Regions from separate parts of the Homo sapiens genome. Here all the other regions are linked to region 2. The links come from fine-mapping of genetic effects on gene expression. A gene starts in region 2. Each other region holds a variant in brackets. All regions are shown on one strand. Distances are from middle to middle.

What was found. PIP is the estimated chance that this variant, and not a neighbour inherited with it, causes the effect.
Region 1: its variant is the best candidate, but not a certain one, in a credible set for the expression of PENK in tibial artery (GTEx, PIP 0.50).
Region 3: its variant is the best candidate, but not a certain one, in a credible set for the expression of PENK in left ventricle (GTEx, PIP 0.85).

Annotation. Positions count from the first base shown.
Region 1 is chr8:56,695,577-56,703,405 of GRCh38, forward strand. All of the region lies in intron 1 of LOC105375852 (a long non-coding RNA gene), which reads left to right. Among named protein-coding and RNA genes, the nearest start is that of LINC00968, 140 kb to the left of the region's middle. The variant T/C (reference allele first, on the strand shown) is at 4,582.
Region 2 is chr8:56,444,220-56,452,048 of GRCh38, forward strand. PENK (proenkephalin) reads right to left here and starts at 2,422. Exons shown (of 4, transcript NM_001135690.3): 1 at 2,350-2,422; 2 at 2,207-2,262; 3 at 1,597-1,737. The coding sequence starts at 1,734. It overlaps PENK-AS1 (PENK antisense RNA 1), which reads left to right and starts at 1,588. Exons shown (of 4, transcript NR_125813.1): 1 at 1,588-2,281. RefSeq lists an enhancer at 1,193-2,084.
Region 3 is chr8:56,510,159-56,517,987 of GRCh38, forward strand. All of the region lies in intron 2 of PENK-AS1 (PENK antisense RNA 1), which reads left to right. Among named protein-coding and RNA genes, the nearest start is that of LINC00968, 46 kb to the right of the region's middle. The variant C/A (reference allele first, on the strand shown) is at 3,518.

The sequences.
Region 1 (7,829 bases), 250 kb after region 2:
GTAAGCTGGAAAATATAAAAGTATTAGGGTAAGAGAACTTCTCCACTGTCTTACATTATTATGAGTCTGCCTGTAGTGTAGCCTAAGTATGTCTTCCCAGCCACTTTCTGGGGTTCTTACCTTCTAGCCAGCTCTATCTAGGAAATTTTTCCCTCATCTTGATGGAAACCTTACTTTCCTTTTCTGGCCAAGAGATTTTATTTACAATAACATCTTATTTTCCTTCCTGGGCTTAGAGAATTGGGGTCCACATTAGTCTGCTAAGGTGAAACGGTAAAACACTACAGACTGGGTAGCTTAAACATCAAGCTATTATTTCCTCCAAGTTCTACAAGTTCTAAAGACTGGAAGTCCAAGATCAAGGTTCTGGTTGATTTGATTTCTGGTAAGGGTTGTCTTCCTGGATTGCAGATGGCCAACTTCTCATAGGCACTTGGAGAGAGAAAGCTCTCTGATATCTCTTTGTATAAAGACATTAGTCTTATGGGATTAGGGCCCCACCCTTATGGCCTCATTTAACCTTAATTACCTTCTTAGAGGTACATACGGTTGCACTAAAGATTAGGGCTTCAATGTATAAATTTTAGGGGGACACAAACATTCAGTCTATAACAGTTCTTCTGGGCCATTTGTGCTTCACCTCTCTATACTCTTGCCGAGGCAGTCAATATAGGGGCCCTGACTATATGTGAGATGGAAGAGAAAGGGAAGTCAGGCATAAGTATATCAAAAATATTATCTCACCACATTTGGAGTAGCAAAAATTTAAAATAAATTTGAATATTCAATCAGGGAGAGAATTACTACATTTTAATAAACTCATACTAGAGACTATTGTGAAGGTCTTTAAAAGCATGAAGCAGATATATGTGCATTGATCTGGAACTCATAGCAACCATATAATACAACAAGAGCAAATCACAAAATACTATGTACAGTGGAATCTCATCTGTATTAAAAATTAAATCAAAATCTTTATGTTGGTGCACAGATGTACCAGCAAAGAAAAGGTATGAATGAGAGGCACAGGCTGCCACTGGTGAAGTGGTATTGGAGATGTGCAATATACACTATTAACTTCCTTCTGAATACATTACTGCCTTTTGAATTATTATAATAAGCAGGTTGTAATTCAAATGACTGAAATTTTAAAAAATAAAAAGATGAGCAAAGGACACTGCAGTCAAGGAGCGAGAATGAGAACAGTCTGAGATTGATGCTGCATGGTCATGTGGTCTGTCCCCATGGGTGGTAATAACCAGGGTGATACATCATTCTGCAGGCTGTGGGCCTTAGGTTTTCCGTTCAGAAACTGGATTTGGTTTTTCTATCCACACAGAACTGACTGACCTCTTGGGGTCAGACTACTAACCAAGTCTCTAAAACAAGAATACATATTACTAGAATAGTAATTCTAGAATACTGATTTATTGATATCCAATGGGGGAAGATGTCTTTAATTTCTGAGACACTTATTTGCATCTGGCTTCCAAAGTAGCCTCCTGCTGATATCAGGGTACTCAAAAATGATCGTGAATACTAAAAACATATTATGGGGATTATTTCAGCCAAATCAGGGAATCATCTGATGACACTTTTTAGCTTTCTAGATGGTTGGAAGATAGCCTGGAGTTTTTGATGTTGTGTTTTGATGATGTGCTCTCTCTCTCTCTCGCTTGCTCTCTCTCTCTCTCTTTCCACTCTCCCCCTCTGTCTCTCCATCCCTCCTTCTCCTCCTCCTTTTCCTTTACTCCTATTTCCTGTTTCTCTGTTCTTTCATTTCTTCCCTCCCTCCCTTCCCTGGGACCTTGTCTCCTTATCTTATTCCAGAGAGATGTTTTGTGGCTTAAGTATAGAGTTCGCCTTTGGGGTGTTCTCAAGACCCAGAGATTCTTTACCCCCTATTTAAGATCCAGGAGAATGTCATTATAGCCTTCTACATGCTGACTTTAGTAGAAATTCAAAATACCACTTTTAAGGTTTGATAGTCTGAGAAAACCCATCTTACTGTATGAAAAATCAATTCTCCAAGTTATAAAGTAAAACTTCATAGATAATGCTTTTAAAAATAGTAGAAAAATTAAGTCAGTACAGTTTGGATAGAACTATTTGAAGACAAAAGACAAAATATTGGAGAAATATTAGTTAGATAAATCAGTGGACACATGATATAAATGCATTAATATTCCAAAGAGCAGTTTCCTTTGAAAAGCCTCCTTTCCCTCTTTCCATATTGCTAGGCTTACAGGGGAAAGGCAATAATTCATTTTTTAAAAAAACTAGGGAACACAGTGGTCTCATGTGCTATGCTATTAAATCTGAGTCACTCAACTCTCCACCACAGATATTTTTCCTTGTATGTTGATGGATTTTTTTTAAAGTACCATCAATCTGAATGACAACTTTTTCTTAAACACCTGGGCTGCTCAGCAAATACAATATGAATTTAATCCTGCTAGGAATGAAAATAGAGGTGAGCAGAGGTGCCTGTTCCCCTCTGGCAAAATTTTGACTTATGAGTTCATCCATGCTTCAAAATAACATCACAGCAGTACCTTCCATGGGTGACATGGCTCCATTAATGCTAAAGTCACACCTTGACTACAAGGAGCATGCACACCACCACCCTTTGCTGGGAAGCATCCCATCTCCCAAGTTCCATCCTTTCATGGCAGCCCCTTTTCCATCTGAGCCCATTTTTAAGATGCCACTTGTTCCCATCTTTGAGTTCCTATGGGGATCTAGATTAGAAATTTTTCACTCTTGCAGTAGATAAAGTAGCCACTAGCCATGTGTATATTAAAACTAAATTATACATTTATGTCTTCTGTCACATTAGAAACAGGTGAAATGCTCAATAGCCCCAGTAGTTAGGGCTACAGTACTAGGCAGTGCAGAGAACCTTTCTTTTGCCGCAGACAGTTCTAGGGGAAAACAGAAATGGAAGATGTCTCCTGTCTCTCCTACTGCATGACGATAGCTGCCAGGTCTGGCATTTTCACAGCTGTGTCCTTAGGGTCTAGCTCAGTGATTTTCACGTGACACATGCATAAGTCACTAAATGAATAAATGCATGAAATGAATAAAATGATCAAACGAATGAATGAATGGATATTGCCATTAATAATGGTTTTTCTTGGTCTTCCTGAAGTTTTTCATGAATTAATTCTTATTTGACCCCCATGTCTCAGCTTAAGTTATACTTCTTCAGGGAACCCCGCCCTGTCTGATCCTCCACACTGGGCTAGGTCCTTTTCCCAACATCAGTCTTATACTCTTATGGTGATACTGCCAATACTTTCGTTAACTGCCTGCCTGGCTTTTGGTTTCTCCTCCTAAATTAACAAAATTTATTGAGAGTAGGACCTTTCACTTATTTTTTTTTTAAATCCATAACACAAGCACAGTGCCTGGGATGTTAACTGAAAAACTGAAGGACTCTTTTTGCCCTTTAACATTCACTTATAGGCTACTTAGATTGAAATCTAAAAGTGCTTGACTGCCTTTAGAGCTTTTCCTATAAATACTCCCCAAGTAGATTCATATGGTTAAAGAAAAACAAAAATATGTGCATAAAACCCACTACAACCTCAGGCTGTACCTTGGCTCTCTTCAGCACACTAAGGCAACAGAACTCAATCTGCACAAAACGATGAATAGGAAGCAGTTACGGGCCATTTCCTCCCAACCTCAGTGGAAACTTCAGTTGCCTTTACTTCCTGTCATGTGCTCTCCATCCCCCAGTGTCCCATACCTACTCTGTGGCTATTTAAAAACAAAGCCAGTAAGTGAAAATACAAAAACATAGTCCGATAAGGTACTGAGTATCATCCAGGCTTATAAAGGTTATTTCCTGAATTAGTTTTCTGAGAAAAAATAAACTTACGGAAGCAATTTGCATAAAACTTTAATAGACAGTCACATTAAATCAGTGTTCTTCAAATGATAGCATAAATAGAAATCACCTGCAGCATTTGTGGAACTTCAGGTGCTTGGGTTCCTCAGTAGATGGGGCAGGGATAGGGCTGGGCATTTGAGCATCTGTCAATCAAGCTCCTGGGTGACATTAACGTAGCCTGCACATGCACTGCAAAACCTCGCTGAAACTAGGATTGATTTTCCTCCATCTTCTGTTTTACAAAAGAAAATAATTTTCACTTTATTTTTCTTATTTCATGGTTCAGTAATTATGTGCAAGAACAATTCAGATATTTAAATCACATCATATTGCCTAAAATTTTGTAGATTTCAAATTTTGACCAGGCCAGTGACTCTTTGCTGTCTGAAAGCTCTCATTTTTAATTTTTTTCTGTAATATAGCTGCACATCAAGCCTACAGTGTTATAATAGCTTAAATTTGTAATCCGTAGGCTCTTAAATAAAGTTTATCAATGTCTACTTAGTACACCATTTCATATATCAGCTGCAAAAACATCTTCAGTATTATTATTCTGTGCCAAGTCTGTAATGAATAAACAGCACTGCAAACACTTCAAACCTGTTTATTCACTTTGGAGAGCTTTTCTTTGGTTCAAGTCTCAGAGGATTTTGGCTTTGACTTTTATGAGAAAGGCCTGTATA[T/C]TCCTATGTCTCTTCCATTTCCCTGAAATTTTTCGGTTTACATTGTTCACTCTGTCTTTTAGATTGCAGCAAAAAGTCAAAAAATTGACAGAATGTCCAAAAAGAGAATCTGTGGGTGGCTGTTATCCGCAGTGACTGAGTGAGAAAATTGCCTGGGTCCTGGATCAATGAGGGGCATTTGAGAGAATGCATCAAGGGGAAGACCTTGGGTACACAGTCCCCAGGAGGCAGCTAATGTGTCACGTCCTAAAATCTAATTCATGAGAAATTATTTTTATTTCAAATGAGAAGATCAATGCATAGGGAAGAAAATGTCACATTCAGTTTATTACTTTCTCTAAAATAATAGTGTAACCTGAATCTCCATTGCTATACAGTGTAAAAGAGAAAAAAAAGAATAAATGAAATCCAACTGTGTTAGCTTCACCCATTCTAAACAAAATAAAACTGCAGTTTTAGGAACCATTTCAAGTTATTTGAAAACTTTCATTTCCTAAGTCTATGCAGTTTAAATGCAGAGAACTGCATTTGAGCTCAACGTACCTTTGAGGGAAAGAAAAACATGAATATCAAATAACACTATACAGAAAGCATTTCAAGGCAATCTCTTTGATGTAGCTGAAATATCCCAGCCTCAGTGGCCCCACTATTCTTCTAATGCAACAAGACATCAGGAATTTAATTAAAATTTAAAGATTTATAAGATCCATTCCTCTCTTGGGTAATATACACAAAGACACCATATAGGGTTTTTCTTCCTCTCTCCACTTGATTTCTACTGTGAGTTGCTTTAGTTGGGAAGTCTTTCTCTAACAAAGAAAACACTACTAGGCTGCCAGCTATCAATTCTATATCATTAACCTCTGAAGGTCACTTTTTGTAATACATGTTATAAGAGAATGATTAGGACTTCTATTGTTAACTTTGACAGAGTAGCTTGTTAGGTTATCAACATATTAAACAACCTATCAACACTGTCACCAAGAGAAACGAAAAATGCTGAACAAAATATAAATAAAACAAACAAGCAAAAAATCCAGTTGTTTAAGGCACCGGAGGACAATCAAGGACACCAGGCCTTGTAGGACCAAGTCCATAAAGTGCATTGGGTGATATTTACTATACTTTTCTATTTACTGATTCCTAAGCACACAGATCATGGTGGCTGAGCAGAAAGTGGCTCAGCATTTGATAGTCTCAGTGACCTTAGAAGAAAATAATGGGAGTTTAAAGTTGTAAAGGCAGCCAGGACTTGAGGGACCAAAATTCTGTATGAAATTGGATCCTGGAGAATTAAGTCCAACATTTTACAACTGGTTTTTCCCTTGAAGCCTTCACCAGTTCCTACACTGCATGGAATGGGAGGACAAAATTAGGTAGAGAGAGCCGTGGAGGGGCAAAGCCCAAGCAGAGCTTCAGGTCATCTCATGGGAATAAGGACACAAAAGTCTGAGTTTATAGCTTGCCAAAAAGAGAATTTCTAGTAATCACTCCAGACTTTCATTAGATACCCTTGAAAGGATAAACTCTGGGAAAACCAAAATGGACAAAATCTGACAATGGACAGAATCCATCTTGAATCATCTCAATCAATGGATCAGTGCATGCTCTACAACTCCTGACTGCCTAACAGAAGACAACTCAATCCTTTCTGTAGAAAGATCATGTCATAGAGTCCCTGAAATGTTGTATAATGCCCAACACTCAAGCAAAAATTATATGTGTCAGGAAATGTCCAAAAGACCAAAACCAAGAGCAGGAAAATCTATTAGGAATAGGCCTACATGTGATCTAGATATTAAAGTTTAGGATTCAGACCTGGCAATAGCAGTGACAAATATGTTCAAAAAATAAACTATACAATGAAGACTAGCCAGAGAACTGGGATCCATAAAAAAAGTCAAATGGTAATTATTCTAGATTGGAAAATCACATTAATTGAAATTAATAAGAGATTAATTTAAGAGGAAATTTGACTCAGCAGAAAAGGTATTTGGTGAAGCAGAAGCTAGGTCAAGAGGAAATACTCAAACTAAAGGACACATAAAAAGGGAATGAAAAATAGAGAATGTAATAGACATGTAGGACATAAGTACAAATCTAAAGTGGGTGTAACTGGAGAGGAGAGAAGGACAGAGCAAAATGAGAAGAAATACTAGATAATTCTTCCAAAATGTGAAAGATTCAAACCACTGATTCAGTAAGTTCTATAAAACGGCAATGGGATGAATAAAATAAATTCACATATAGGCATATCATGGTAAATTGCTAAAGATCAAAGAGAAAAGATTAATCTTTTCTTTTGCATGCAGAGGAAAATGATAAAACCTTCCAAGGAAGAACAATAAGATCAAGGGCTGATTTTCCCACAGAATTAAAAGAAGACAAATTACAATGGAATTATATCACTAGAAGGCTAAAATAATACAACTGTCAATCATGAATTCTTTGCTTTGTCAAAAGATCCTTAAAAATAGAGATAAAGATATTTTTGATAATTAAAACAAGGAGAAAATTCATTGTCATTAAGCCTTTAAAAGAAATATTAAAGCACATTATTTAGGCAAATGAAAGATAAGGAAACAAAGATAAGCCAATTAAAAGACCAATATTTTAAAATTGGATAATAATACAAAACCCAACTATATGATGCTTGTCACATAAATATAAAAACATAGAACAGTGGAAAGTAAAAGGATGGATAAGTCTTAAAAAATAACCGAGAGAAGGCTGTTAAAACTATATTAACAGGCAAAATTGGCTTTAATGAAAGTGATAATACATTCTATAATACATTCTATAATAATAAAAGGGTCAATATATTAGAAAGACATAACATTTCATAATTGGTAGGCTTCTTATAGCATAGGCCAAAAAATATATATAATACATATATATTTTGCATATTATAATGTATACATATACACTTATAAATATACATACTTTTATATACACACATATATATCTGCTATATATATGTGTGTATATAAAAGTATGTGTGTGTGTGTGTGTGTATGTATATATATATATATGTATATATATATATATGTGTGTATATATATATATATATATATATATATATATATCTCCAGCAGAACTAAAAGGAAAAAAATCTGCAACCATAATGGAATGTTTTAACATATTCTTCCCAGTTACAAATAAAAGGAGCAAGATCCATAGAGGATTTGAACAGGTAATTAACAAACCTGACCTAAATGTATATACAGAACATTCTGCCTCATGTTTCT
Region 2 (7,829 bases):
GTCAGTCATATTAATTCGCTAACTCACATAATTTAAGTAAATATGATACTACTTTGGGGTCAGTCTGTGTGATTAGAAAAATTAGACTAGAATCCATATAACCTTTATTCAGATGGCAGAGAAAGCTAGGGGAGGGGGCTGAGCCCCTGACATGTTGAGCAGGCAAAGCTCAAAATATGTGTGACTGGGCACAGGGAATTATGGGGTCAGAAAGTGGAGTCTTCTATGTGGCATGTTTTGGATTTTTCTTCCTCCTTCTGTGTCTAAAATTCTTTATCCACAAGATCTATCCTTATATTTGTAGCACTGGCTCAATTTTTAGGCATAGGTTAAAAGCTCATGACTACAGGAGAAAGAAGAAAGATGGGTGAAGGGGATTGTTTCTCCTATTGAAGATGAAACATTTTTCTCATAGTTTAAATATACAACCTTCCTATGTGTCTTCTCTTTAATGCCAAGTTAGCACAGGTCAAAGAAACAAACATTTAACCTGAAATATATACCACAGATATTTGGAAACTGTTCCTTGGTTTTCTCCCCATTTCAAACATCTACATAAGGTAAAATTTCCTCAATTCCAGGTGGAACCCAAAGCAGCTTGGATGAATACATTATTCTCTATGAGCTTTTTAAGTCACCATAAAATTTCAACAAATTTCAAAAGCAATGCAAAGGAATTGTCAGGGGAGCTGGTAAAAGTGAAGCTACCTGAGTCTCGAGGTTGGAGATTCAGACTCAGTAGAGCACCAGAGGTGATTCGACAGCCCATGGGGAACCATGATCAGAATGAAAGTTATTTTGTCCTCAGCTTTTTCTTTCCCCAACCCCCTGTAGTGCAGTGTATCTTTGGACTGTTGTCACCCATTGGACACTGGCCACTTCTCTTGTTCCTTTCTCATAGCCAAATTAAACTGTTGTTTTAGTTACTATTACAAAGGGCAGTTGAAACAGAAGTTGAATTCCAGCATCACTGGCTAGTGAGACAGTTTGAACTCTTTCCTGTCTACGGTTATTTCGCCTTCCTCTCCCCGTACCCCTTTTCCATCCCTTTGCTCTCTCCTATTTACAGGTGAGGGTAGGGAATGAGGGACCTGAGGTTAAGAGAGCTGGGGAACATAAATCTAAAGAAAGGCACCGAAATGTCACTAACAAAAAATTACATTATTTGTGGGAAAGATGGGAAGATGACTGCGTGTGGAGGGGCCCTTAGCTGGGATATGTTAGGAGTTGTGGTGACAGCCATCTTCCTTCTGACAGCCCAGGAGAGAACCCAGTGCTATCCGAGGTGCTGAACAGAGGACTTCTCGGGGTTCCCGAATTCCCAGGGTTAAAACAAACTTGGTTTGTGCGGCGACACCGCTACCCTTACCGGTCCCCAGATAGTCGCGGATCCCCGAAGCTAAGAGCCAGGGCAGGACTTCAGTCAGTGTTCCAGGAACAGCTGAGACACCCAGGTCACCACGGGCTCGCGCCGCTGCGGCTCCGACCCGGTGCGAACCGCCATACGCGCCGCGCGGTGGGCCGGAGGCAGTCCGCGTACTGTTGCGGAAACTCTGTCTCACAAGGTGCGCAACACTCGCCGCGCGCAACACTCACCAGGAAGTTGATGTCGGCCGGGCGCACTAGGCGGTAGCTGCACGTCGCGCAATCCTGGCTGCATTCGGCCCGCACGGTCGCCAGGAGCCCGGGGCCGAGCAACAGCAGCCAAGTGCAAAGTGTCAGGAACCGCGCCATGGACTGCGAGGAGAGAGGGACGCGTGCTTCGAGCCTGCCTGGGCGCAGAACGGGGTCCCTCGGCAGGACCCTCGCCGCGACAGCCTCAGCAGGGGATCGTCGAGCAAAAGCCCGCAGGAATGCTCCTTTCTGGGGCCCCGCCCTCCCGGCCGACAGCTTTTAGGTAGACGTGGAGGCGACTCAGATCGCCTCGCGGTTCCCGGGATGGCGCGGTCGCCCCCAACGCGAGGCTGCCTGGGGCACCCGGCTCTTTTCCTGGGCGTCCGCGGCCCAGGGCAAGATTCCGGAGAGAACGCCGCAGACCAGGGGCGAGAGAGCGGGAGCCGGGGGAGGCAGGACATTGACTGGGGTCACAAAGAAGAACCAGGGAACGCTGTTGGGGAACCCATGCAATGAAATGTGAAGGGAAAGAGGGCGGGCAGACGTCCCCAAACCCGCTCAGCAAAGACAAGCTTCGGGCAAATTCACTCACGTTGACGCTGTTCGGATGGAGCAGGCCAATTGGAAAAGCCGGGTTCAGACACGACTCTAGAGGGAAGAGAAGAAGGCAAGTGTGAGGAGGGCGGGCGTCGGGGAGAAGCGGGCCCGGGTGTGCTGGCGGACGTAGGGCCTCACCGTCGCGGTCCTCAGCGTCTCTGCGGGGTCACGGGCCAGGCTGCGGGGCTCTGAGCGCCTGCCTCGCCGTCCCGGGGCTTAACGGCTGCTGGAGCCACTTTATAATTAGCCCCAAACCGAAGGAGGCGCGCGCGCCCCAATCGCCGGCGGGCTGCAGCTGACGCAGGCCCTACGCCAGCCCCGCGCCGACGCCTTCGCGGGAGGGGTCGGTCCCCCAGCACCCGCGCGCCGCTCCCCCCGCCGAGCTCGGGTGGGGGCCACAGGGGGCGCTCGGTGGCTCCCCACACGGCCAGGTGACAAACCCAAGGCAGTTAGGAAGTTTGGGGAGAGTGAGATAGGATCAAGTTTCTCCGCATAAAGTCACTGAAATTGCACCGTGGGATGCGGGCTCCAGGGAGGGAAGCGAGGTGGGGGCGTTTGGAAGGATAGATGGACTGGCTTAGACTTCTGGAATGTGCTGGAGACCCAGCGGGCCGGTGAACCTGCCCCTTTCCCGCCTCCTCCCTGGGCCCCCTCGCGGGTCCCCGTGGGCACCAAGCACAGCCGTCCGGAATGTCGTCATTTATTGACCAACCTGTCCCCCACACTTGACTCCGAGTTCCTTACTGCAGCATCTAACAGCGTCAAGGTGCGCAGTTTAGGCGCTCAATTAATGGTTACAGGAACTGAACGATTGAAAGTTTCTGGGAATCTTAAAATCTCAGGACAGAATTTTCACCTTTCCAGTTAGAGACCCTTGGCCAAGCGTAGAAGCAGGTAAACCCTCAGGTTCCGGGACTGCGCGCTTTTCAGCCACTGTGGGAGAGGATCCGTGTTTAACCAGCTCCCCGGGGCTCCCAAGTCGAAGACCTACTGCCTTGAGAGCGCTGTCCAGGGTGTCCGGGGGTGTTGGATCAGTGAGAGGGGGGTGCCGGGGCGGGTGTAATGTCAGCGCGCCAGGAGTGTGGTGGGGAGGGAGGGATGAGGGACACCCTACCCGGGACGCCGGGGCTTGGAACCTCTTCTCCACCGGGAGGGGGCCGAGGGCACACTGTGGAGGCTGGTACTGTCCATTAAGACACGCTTTCCCGCTTCCTGGCTCTGCAAAAGATTGCTAAGCGGCAAGCTGCTTACATTGCCTGAGGCCTCAGTTTCCCTATTTGAAAAATAGGAACAGAGGTAATATGCCATTCATAAGGTTCTGGAGAGAATCAAATGAAATAGTGGACGAAATCTCTTAGCCTTGTGCCTGGCACTATAGCAAGCCCTCAAAACATCTTCTAACCATCCGTCATCCGTCCGTCCACCTTTCCATCTGTGACCATTGTCTGCTTACCTTATAGCTACCATCGATGTATCCAATCCACCTATGCATCTATGTCTCCTAGACCTAGGGGGAAACCATAAACAGTTCCTGGGAAAAGGTCCCAGAGGTTTCCAGGCCCTCTGCGCCCTCTGCAAAGGGCTGATTTCTACAGTCGCTAGGACCTGCAGCGGCGCTGCTCCCGCGGGGCTCCGGCCGCGCTGCATGTCCCATTATAGTCGCTAGAGGGCAGCGCTCTCCTGCGTAGGCTGGGCTTGCGGGGACTGGGGTCTCAGTTCTCCGCAGGCCTCAATGTGCGGGCTTGACACGCAGCCCTCGGATTAGCCCCGAAGCTGCACCCGAGCACCGCCTGCCTCCCGGCCGGGGCATCACGGTAGCAAGGTCGGGAAAGCAGAGCCCTGGAGTGGGGCTGGAGAACCCCGGACATAGCCCTAGGGAGCCAGCATTACCCTCTGAGCAGGAAAACACAATGTTTCCCGCTTTAGGTTCTTTTCATCATGGGGCCCCTTACTAGCTCCTTACTCTCTCCCCAAGGCAAAGGAGAGCTTTTGTCTTTACTTCAGATTTTTCCTTGTTGCCTGGGCTTTGGAAAGGAAGCTGACTCCACTGCAGTACTCAGTGCGAAAGTATTGCATGAACAAATTCTACCTAAAATTAAAGGAAACTTGCTATAGCTGAGCACTTGCGAACCTGGGATCACCTAAGAACTTTAAACGCATAATCAGGAGCGGGAGGCTGAGGTAGGTGTGTGTGTGTGTGTGTGTGTGTTTGTGTGTGTGTGTGTGTGTTTGGAATGACCACATCACGCGATGCTTTTTAAGGGTGCACAGCGCGCAGTAGTGGAAACAGTGCATTTCTGCACCCTGGCGACACAAAGGCTCGTTAGGATCTTGGAAAAGTAGAAGCTTAAGTTTGGGAGAGGTTTTAGGGATAATTTATTCCACCGCCCGTTCTACAGATGGTAAAAACCAAGGCTCAGAACGTCTGAGTGACCAGCCAGGGCAGTGGCAGACCAGGTTTTCCAGCCTCTGAGTTCCTTCCCGAAACCTACCTCAGGCCTAGTTTGTTTCTGTTGGAACTAGTCATGTTTGCTCTGAGTTAGGGTCTCTTGGCGCATTTGCATTTTCCCCTGAGACTCCTGAAATGTCAGGGGAGAGAGAAACAGAAAGGGAAAGAGAGGGCGCCTCCTAGGGGCAGTGCAAGAGTGTGCAGTCCCCCACGAGACCTTCCTAGATGCTTGGGGCACAGTGGTTGCTTGGTAAATGTGTGTCGACCGGCTGACTGACTGAATGAATGAAGTGATAGGAGGTCGACCTTGTTTGCCTACCCCAAATCAGTGACATCTCTTCCCATCATCCTCCCCCATCGACCTGAGAAACTAAAAGTCATTCTGGTGGCAATGAGTTGTAAGAAATTCATTTTTTCATCATCTTTTAAATATTTATCAAGAGTGAACAGACTTTGCAGTTATGATCTGGGAGAAAGCTGCTCTAGAAATCAGACTAAAAAAGGGAAGGGGCTCTGTCTTAAAGCATTCAATCCAGACATTTTTTATTTTCAGGTTAGGATCAATAACTCATCTTCTGATCCTAGGGTCCCAAGCATTTGCCCAAAGGGATTCATCCTAGAGACCAAGAAATCTGACTTTTTAACCCTGATGATGAATGGCATTTTACTCAGTTCTTAGGTGTTCTCAGAGTCTAAAAAGGTGGGATTTTACAATGTTCTTTTAGTGTCCTCTTCCATTATTTTCAGATGGAAGATGGCTAAATTGAATGACGTCTTTCTGGTACTCACTCCTCTGCTCCCCTCCCCTTCCTGTCACCCAAGCACACGTGTTTTATTACAGAAAGCCATTTCTGTCTGCCCCCCTCTCTCTAAAGTAGCAGTAGTGGAAACAAGCCCCTTCAGCACTCAGGCAATTGTGTGATGGTTCAGCATAAAAGCAACATGTTCTAACATTTCAGATGTTTGGAGTCATGCCAGAGTCAGGGGAGACATCCCCGTTTTCAGTTACAATCTAAAGTGCACAGTTTGCAAAATGTGATTCTGTGAGTTGGGCATATAACTGTGAAGTAGCACTGTTAAGGGATTCTTTTTCAGACTGGCTCAGAACACCATAACAGAGCAGCTGGAAGTGGGGTTGGCTTGAACGAGATGTTTTATGGTGTCACAAACCCCATTTTAAGGAAAGTCAGTGTTGGAACATTCTGGAAAATGTACCAGGAAATAGAATAAAACTCTAGGAAGAAAAGGTAATCTGGTACAAAGTTGCCAGATTAAATAATAGAAAGAGTTTAAATAATATAAATTAAATAATAGAATGAGTTTAAATAATAGAAAACATGTCAATGTGTCAGAGGAGGTGGGGAGAAAGGGAAGGTAAATTAAACCAAGAATATCAAACATATTGTTTATGTACTGTAAACTTAGGGAGGATTGAAACACACTTCCTAACTTTGGCCTTTTGCTCTCCAGGAGGGAAAAGATCAATCTTACTATTAAGTATAGGTAATTAGACAATGAATAAAGCAAGTCCTATTATGAAAAATTAGATTAAAATAAGATATAGCTGTGAGTCCAACCAATAGAGTATGTCTTGAGCAGCTCGACTTTTAATAATGACTTTTGAAATTGCCTTGAGAAATTTAATAGCCACGTGAGAGAACCAGTCAATGTTAAAAAATTGTGTTGCCTCAGTGAAACCCCGTCTCTAATAAAAATACAAAAAAAATGAGCTGGGTGTGGTGGCGGGTGCCTGTAGTCCTAGCTACTCAGGAGGCTGAGGCAGGAGAATGGCAGGAAGCTGGGAGGTGGAGCTTGCAGTGAGTCGAGATTGCGTCACTGCACTCCAGCTTGGGCGACAGAGCAAGACTCCATCACAAAAAAAATTGTGTCACCTCATTGGATTCAAACCTTATTCAACAACTTGACTTTGATTTGGTGTTTTGGTTGTTTCTGAAATCAAATATTAGATCCCACTTATGGGACCTGTATAGAAGGCATTCAAAAATATTCATCCACCACAGACAATTTCCACAGTTGAAGGAATGCTAGAAGAGAAGTTCTAAATAGATTTTGATCAATAGTAAGTTATTGGAATGAATGCAATGGCTGCAGGATACCAAGTTCTTAAGGGAATCCCTTTGCGTATGATCCACAGCACAGATGTTTGCACATAGTAGAGACTCAGTGAAGTTGCTTTTAAAACATGTGTTTTTGCTTATAGTTACATCTTCCATAGCTCCCAAGTGATGGTGAATGGTGGGATAGACCCAAGAGGTCAAACTGTTTTAATAAAATTATATAGGGAAAGCACTCAAATCTTTCAAAGCTATCAAATAAAAACTGAGCAAACTGAAAAACCACGACTCTTCTTAGATCTATCATAGAGGTTGGGTCACAGGGGAAACCACTGTCCCCCCAAATTGGAGAGACCAACAGGCAAACACAGGGGGTCCTGGCTTGCTGGTGCAGAAACCTCCCAGAGAATCAGTTGGGAGGTAGAAAAACCTGAACTACAGCTGACAAATTCCGGGAAACTGTGTGAACAAATCTGAGATAAAAATTCCAGGAGAACCCAGTCCACGGAGGCCTCCACACTTTCATGAGTTTTACTTACAGGTGTTCAACCAGGTTCTCACAATGAATAATGGAAAAAATTTCCCTTGTGCTTCAAGCAGTGGGAGGGAAAAAAGAGCCATTTTGAAATACACCGGAACATTGTGTTCCTAACAAGGTTTGCCCACAGGAGAACCTAGTTAACCAGAGTCTAATCTCCTGAAGTTTTATCAGAAAATAGCTGACCTGAGGGACTGGAAATACCCAACTCCAGCCCCCTCCAGCCATTGTGTTCTACTGAAGGGGAGGCTGGGGACTAAGAACATATGTAAAGTTCACAGCCCAGAGGTACAGGCTCACTAAAGACTGAGACCTACTCAGAGGACTGCAGAACACTCCCTTCCTGCTTTATCAACACATTACTAAAGGCATATTTATAACATTTCCGTTTACCCAGTACATCAAGTCTGGCTGTCAAGAAAAAATTACAAGACATACTAAAAACCAAAAAAAAAAAAAAAAAATCCCCACAGTTTGAAGAGACAGAGCAAGCATCAGAACCAGGCTCAGATATGTCAGAGATGTTAGAATTACCAGATGGGGAACTTAAAACAGC
Region 3 (7,829 bases), 66 kb after region 2:
CTGCCTCTTCAGACCCTCTTCCCACCTCACCTCACCTGGGCACCCCCCAACTTCTAGCTCCACTAACTTCTTTCTGCCACAGTGCTATTACTGCCCCTTTGTCTGGTCAGCCCCTACTCAGCCTCCTGCCCCCAGCTCAAGTGCAATTTCCTCACAAAAGCCTCCTCAGGCCTCCCTGGACTGAGCAGGCCCCCACTCCTGACTCTCCCAGGGCAGGACCTTTCCTTCCTAGCTCATGTCAGCATTGCAGTTTTATATTAGCTCATATGCTCATTCGATTCCTCCTTGCCTCCCGCTCTGAACGTCACTCCTTGAGGACAGAAACCAGGTTTATCTTCATTCACTATGGATCCTCATGTACCTGGCATGTTGGAGGTGCTGGATAAATATTTTTTGAGTGCATACCAAAATGAATGAAATATACATGAACTATAAGGTAATTTTAAACATTTCACGTATTATGATTCTATGCTTTTTTATCCACCAACTCAGGGCTATTTAATGTGATTCTTATGTGGGACATCCCAATAAAGCTCTATTATTTCTAGACGTCTAACTTCTCAGAGTCCAATACTAGGGATTTAGTAAATTAAGTGGACACAGGTATTCTGGAATTCTTTCAAGGATGTGAATTATGAGCCAATAAGGCAAGAATCAGGATTCCAGAAGAACCCAGTGGAACTGATGATGACCAAGCCTTCTCCATGGACTTTCTTTGGGTTGAAGCTGCCCAAAATCCCTGCCAGAATGATGCTGAAGTTAGGACCACACAGAGAGCCTGGCTGTTAGTCAGCACTTGGGTTGTAGGTGACTGCAATGCCCAGTCATCTTTATCCAGTCTAGGCCATGTTAACCCTCTCTTGCTCCTTCGCTCTTCCGGACGGGTGCTGTGATTCGCCTCTGAAAAGTCATGCAACCCTCTGGTGTGCACAAGCCCTAGTCTGCTTATTAAATCGGAATTCCAGGGGCAGCGGCTTGCCTGGTGGATGCCCCTCTCCCCATCTCTCCTGGGCTTTGGCACTCATTCTGTCCCAGGAGACCTGCCTTTCAAGTCCCCAGAGTGACTCAGGGTGACTTCATACTGGGTTTCATTTTCATGTATTCAGTTCAAGTACATTCTTTTAAAAGCTCTGCTTTTCATTGACAGTAAGAAAACTGCCCTGGTTTGTAGGTCTGACACAGGGCTTGGAAACTTCACTTTTTAAAAGGATCACAGGTGACTTTGATACAGATGCTCATGGACAAAGCTTTACACTGTTCTAGAAGCAGCAGTACCCACAGCTCAGGCATTCATGTTTCCTTTGAGCCAGCCTCAGGGATGAGTGAGTGTGGTGGAGGGAGCTAATTGGTGATAAATTGGTGGAATAGGTCCCTAGCCAAGGGCAAACCCAATTTTTTTTCGTCTAATATCCAGAGACAGTTCAGCTTCACTTGTTTGTCATATAACACTGTCTCTACCCTGCCTGCTGGTTGGAGCACAGTTGAGCATGTGAGGGTGTGCGGAGCTCCAATTATGTGCACTGGATTGATGGGGACACATCAGCCTTCACAGACAGCCAGGGAGGGTGAGAGCAGGCCAGAAATGGCGCCCACGGTCACAGAAGTGTAGCAAGAGGAACAGTCAGTTTGTTAGGGAAGCAGTGAGTGAAGTGTTATGAGATATTTATGTCTAGGAAGAGTGTGCTGGTTACCAAATTAATCCAAGCGTTCTTAAATGTTTTTCTAACTATACAATTATATGTGCTTATTATAGAGAATTAAGAAATATTTCAAAATAGGAAGAATAATATAAAATTCCTCTGCAAAGCAACTTCTCAGAAATAACTAGCAAAATTTTACGTATCCAATATGAAATATACATTAAACACATATTATTACAAATATCTGTTATACTATTTATATATAAATATAGATTACATAATATTTATATGCTAAAATATGTTATGTATTTAATATTGGCAATACACAAAATATCACTATTTACATATACATGTGCACATATATATACACAGAAACACCCATAAATTTTGTTTTAAACTTGAAATAATAAAGTTTATATTTTGCTTTTTTTCACCTGACATTACATTGTGACATTTTCCCCATGAGATTTGATAGTCTTCAAATACATGTTTTTTTTTTGGTGGGGGAGGATGGAGTCTCACTCTGTCACCCAGGCTGGAGTGCAGTGGCGTGATCTGGCTTACTGCAAGCTCTGTCTCCCAGGTTCACGCCATTCTCCTGCCTCAGCCTCCTGAGTAGCTGGGACTACAGGAGCCCACCACCACGCCCGGCTAATTTTTTTTTTTTTTTTGTATTTTTAGTAGAGACGGGGTTTCACCGTGTTAGCCAGGATGGTCTCGACCTCATGATCTGCCCGCCTTGGCCTCCCAAAGTGCTGGGATTATAGGTGTGAGCCACCGCACGCGGCCAAATACATGCTTTTTAATAGCTATATGATATATGATGTCATGATAAAAATAAATTATTACTTGATTTTAGCCATTTATATTGTTTCTAAATATTCATTATTATAAAAAATGCTTCAATGAGTGATCTTGAACTTAGATTTTAGTCTGTTTCTTTGATAATATTAAATTGTCATTCCTTTAATAAGTCAAAAGCAGGGATGATTGTGTTCTAATTTAGTGTCTTGCTGAAACTGAGTCAAGAAACATTTCCAAAGTGGAATTGTGGAATAGTGGAATTGCTTTCTAAATATCTGATGTCAGAGGAAAGAAAGGAAGCTGGGAGAGCCCCCTTCCCACTGCACTGTCCCCGCCCATCACAGACAAAGGACTCTCCTCTCTCTGTCTACTGTGCATCTGCACAGCCAGTTGAGCCCTGGTTAGTTCTGGCATTTGTGGGCAGGGAAAGCACTGTAACTACTTTAGCAGCTATTTCACTAAAGCTTTTCTGTGTGGCGTTCATGCATCTCAGAGGGTGTAGCCTGGCTCACAGAGTATCTGATTCCATGTAGCACAGCTTTGCTATGCTGGAGCCAGGGTGGAGAATTGTACCACAGTGTTAAGAAGACAGCCCACAGAACCTTGGCAGGCAGAACATCATGCTTTGAAAAAGTTAAAGATTGATGATAATTAGTTAATGAGATGTCAGGCTCACTAAAGAGAGGAAATCATTAATTAGTACTTAATCTGTTTTTAGATATACTAGACTAGAGTCTTACAATTTCCAGCAGCATCAGCTTTAAACCATGACATGAATGCAAAGTGTAATTTCTACCAGCAGACTTTTTGTAATTATCTTATTAAAATATGCTTTGGTACACTGAAACAAACATTAGTTTTAGTTCAATTTTAATTGTGGGGAATGAGAATTTGGAGCACTGACTTAGAGTTTCTAAGGAAAGGGAAATTTCATAGCGATGTGTTTAGATTCACTCTCCTTCATCCACTGTAGAGGAGCTGGTTGCCCAAGCATTGCCTTTTGGCAGCTTCTCATGGGGAGGTGATGTCACATCTGCCTCTGAAGGCCCATTTGGAGGAGATCCTTGAGATGG[C/A]CTGGGATCCACCCCATGCTCACCCCAGCTCTGTACTTTTCTTCTGCCTTCATCCCTGTGGCCTCCTGCCTCCTCTCGGTCGGGTCTGTCCTTCTCCTGTGTCTCTGGGGTATCCCTTGATCCACACACACAGCCCTGGCGTGGACCCGCCCTCACTTGCACTGTGCTCTTGGGTTGTGGGGGTCACCATCAGGTGCTTCTGTCTGCTTGGGGCTGGCTCCCAGCTCTGCTCACTTCCTGTGCAAACTTGAATGATAGACTAAGATTCTCTAAGCCTCCATTTCTTCATCTACAAAATGAGGCTAATAACAGGAACAATGCCATCAGGTTTTCAGGATGAAATGAGGTGACAGACATTTGGCACACAGCCAGGATTCGTTGAGTGTTTGCTCTTAGGAATATGATCATAGTTTGAAGTCAGTCAGTCGAAAGCTCTTTAAAGTCAGAGAATTGGCTTTGAGCTTTCTATTTCATCTCTGCAGGACTCAGCATGGGGTAGAACATCTGTAGATGCTGAATACTTGTCATTTGACTCTATTTCCTAGAGTTTAATGATTTTCTATTAGCACACCCTGGCTTTTTTGACTGTGACCTGGGTGTTTCTGCCCAGGTAACAATGAGGCTGCAGCTGCTTTCTCATTTTACACATGATCAGTGGTGCATTCATAAACGTTTTCCAACCAGTTCAAAAAAAAAAAAAACAACCCACTGATTTGTGGTTTTCTTTGGTGTAAATAGTTTCATCATGGCCAACTTTGAGCTACCGTCGTGACAGGAACTGGCTCACAAAAGCCCTCAAAGTTTTTGCAGTTGACATTCTTGAGCTGCTTGACCTACATACTGCAACTGGACTCCTCTAAAAGTAGAAACCAGGGGGCTTCAGTGGCGCCTAACACTGACGTCAGAATTCACAAGGGTGAGCTGGTGTTCTGAGTGGCATTTAGCTTTCATGAGACCTTGAATCAAATCCGAATTCACATCTGACATTTATCCTGCACATCACAGGGCAGCATTGTGGACAGTGTTGTTGGTCTTCCTCACCATCCTGGGTGTCTCAATGAGAAATGTCAAAATTCATCTGCTTTACAGGTTATTTCATCGAAGGGAGAAAGAACACTTGTTTGCCATATGATGCGTAAAATGGGTCTAATTAGCCACGGATCTAATAGCAAAGCATTCTTTGAATTGAGGTTTGATCCTGCAGAATACTTTTTCTTTCTAAGCCATCGTTCATCGTTAAATGCATAAGGACGGTACAGGCCATGTCCCTTGCAGTATTCCCAAAGGCCTGCTGCATACAGCCACATGGGTCATACAGAGCACAGCTCCGGAGATGCCCCTCACGTCAGCTCCGATAAGAATGATGCCTGTGGAGCTGTGCAATGCTGCTGCTCTTTCTATTTTTACTTATATGTATTCCCTACTCAAAGAAGTTGACAACTAAATAGCTAGAAAATGAGAAATGTCAGAAGTGTCTAGCACACATTTCTAGAGCAGTTTCTCAGAAAAAGGGTCACCCCTGTTTAGCCTATGGCAGATGAATTGCCTTATCCAATACAGAAAAGACTTGAGTAGTTACCACATACAAGAACTCTGCTAGGTGCAACTATAATATTAAGATGCCTTAAGTAGGCCGGGTGTGCAGTGGCTCACACCTGTAATCCCAGCACTTTGGGAGGCCAATGCCAGTGGATCACTTGAGGTCAGGAGTTCAAGACCAGCCTAGCCAACATGGTGATACCCCGTATCTACAAAAAATACAAAAATTAGCCAGGTGTGGTGGCATGCGCTTATAATCCCAGCTACTCGGGAGGCTGAGGCAGGAGAATTGCTGGAATCCGGGAGGCAGAAGTTGCAGTGAGCAATATTTCGCCACTGAACTCCAGCCTGGGTGACAGAGAGAGGCTCTGTCTAAAAGAACAAAACAAAACAAAAGACAAACAAAAAAATATAAAATAAGATGCCCTAAGTGCCCAGCAAAAATCTGTGGCTGCCTATCACCCTGTCCATTTGTGAGTTAAATTGTACACCTCAGTGTATTCTATCGTGAACCCTTCTGGGTACAATAGAGGTAACAAAAAGGCACAGAGCACAGGCCACCCTCAAAGAGCTTCCTACCTTTTCAAGAAACCCACATGTGTGCATATGCATCCTGTGGGAATAATATAGTAAACACGCCACTCTGCAGTGACATGCCGACTTGGTTTAAAGCCCAAACATTTAAGAAGACATCTGTTTAGATGAATGTGGTCCATTTTAATATAGTTGCTCTTGGAATCTGAATAATTATTTCAATGTTGCTGCTATTGTACAAATTATATTTGCATTTTCTTTTTTGGAATTGCCTGCAGAGTCCATGACATGTCCTTGTGAATATCCACAGTTAATGCAGTTTTTTCAAGGGTAGATTTAGGGCGAATTCTTTGATAAATGTATAGGTTTATAAGCTGACTATGAAGGTACAGCAAATACTATAGGTTGGCTTATTCAACATGCATCTCAATCTCCCAGCCCCTTGTGTTCCCTTGTCTTAGACACTGGGAAGCTGAATATTCAATCTCCCAGCTTTTGTGTGTAGCTTAAGGTAGGTAGCAGGGCAGGCAGTCTTTGCCAATAATATGTACATAGAACTTCCTGGGAAAGGTTCTCTTCTCTAATTAAAAGGCAAAGCCTTGGAGAAGGAAGTTTTCGGCCATTGGCTCGTCCTCCGTGCCTGTGTATGGGATATAGGAGGAGTATCAGGTGGATTACAACCATGAGGACACTGTGAGGACAAAAGCCACTTCCTCAGGGTGCTTGGTCAGAACAATCGGAGGACCTGGGCTCTGGCAACGTCATGGAACTGCCATCCTAGTCCCAGACTGCACATCACTGGATGTCCTGCCCAATATGGTGAAACCCCATCTCTACTAAAAATACAAAAATTAGCCAGGTGTAGCCTGCAATCCCAGCTACTCGGGAGGCTGAGGCAGGAGAATCCCTTGAACCCAGGAGGCGGAGGTTGCAGTGAGCTGAGATCATGCCACTGCACTCTAGCCTGGGCAACACAGCAAGACCCTGTCTCAAAAGAGAAAAAAAAAAGAGAACAAGAGTAAGTAGGAAAAACAGTTAGAAAATTGTCCTGGTTAGAACTTAGGATTCATTTTGAGAAGTACAGGAAGATAAATATGAGCAGAAGAAAGCAGAGACAGATTATGGAGGACCATAAATGTTCATTTAGAAACGAGATCCACGGGTAGGAAACAATTGCATGTTCTGTAGAAGGCAAGAGATACGGTATGCTTTCATACGAGTTGTCCGGCACCTCTTCTACTATAAATAAAAAAGGAAATAGACTTAATCAAAACAAGCCAAGATGACTTTTTAGGGGAGTACTTTTGCTAACATGCTGTTTCTTGGATTGTAAATCCTGAACACCAGGGGCAATTCCTGTGCCTGCTTGATATACAGTTCCCTTGCTGGAAACCTCAGGTCGGTGAGGACAGTGTTTGTGGAATAAAGGGAAGAGGAATTTGTTTCTTGCCTTGATGCACTTTCAGCAACTTTGCATCCTTAGGGCTACTATTTCTTAAGATTTGACAAGGAATAGAAAGGTATATTACATCTGGGATAGGAATAGAGCATTAGAAAAGTATTTGATCAATTTAAATTATGCATGACTCTAAACAGCAGAAAATTAAGTCAGTGGTCTTGGAGGCTGGCTAGTAATGGAAACCTGCTACAGTATACTTAGTGTATAGACACAGTCTATTTCTAGTATAGTGATGACAATGTAGTCCAAAGTTTGCTGCTTGAGATGGCTTTAATGAAATAGATAGCTTGATTCTCCCTCCTCTTTCCCCTCCTCCTCCTCCTCTTCTCCTCCTCCTTCTTATTTCTTCTTTTCCTTTTCCTTATTTTGTTTGAGACCTATTTAACTTAAGCATTCATTGAAGCATCTTTTTCAGATTTTGTCAACGTCAATACAGCATTGATCGTAATTGAACTATAGATAGAGCCTACTGGGACCAGACAATCAAACTTGAAATTAGAATTGATGCTATGTGAATCTATAATTTTTATCTACAGATTCTCATTTCTATTTGTTCCATCATTTGACTTTCCTGATGATAATAACTAGTCTCCAGTTTCTTTTCTTTTCTTTCTTTTTTTTTTTCAGACGGAGTCTTGCTCTGTCTCCCAGGCTGGAGTGCAGTGGCGCGATCTCCACTCACTGCAACCTCTGCCTCCTGTGTTCAAGCGATTCTCCTGTCTCAGCCTCCTGAGTAGCTGGGATTACAGGCGCACACCACCACGCCCAGCTAATTTTTGT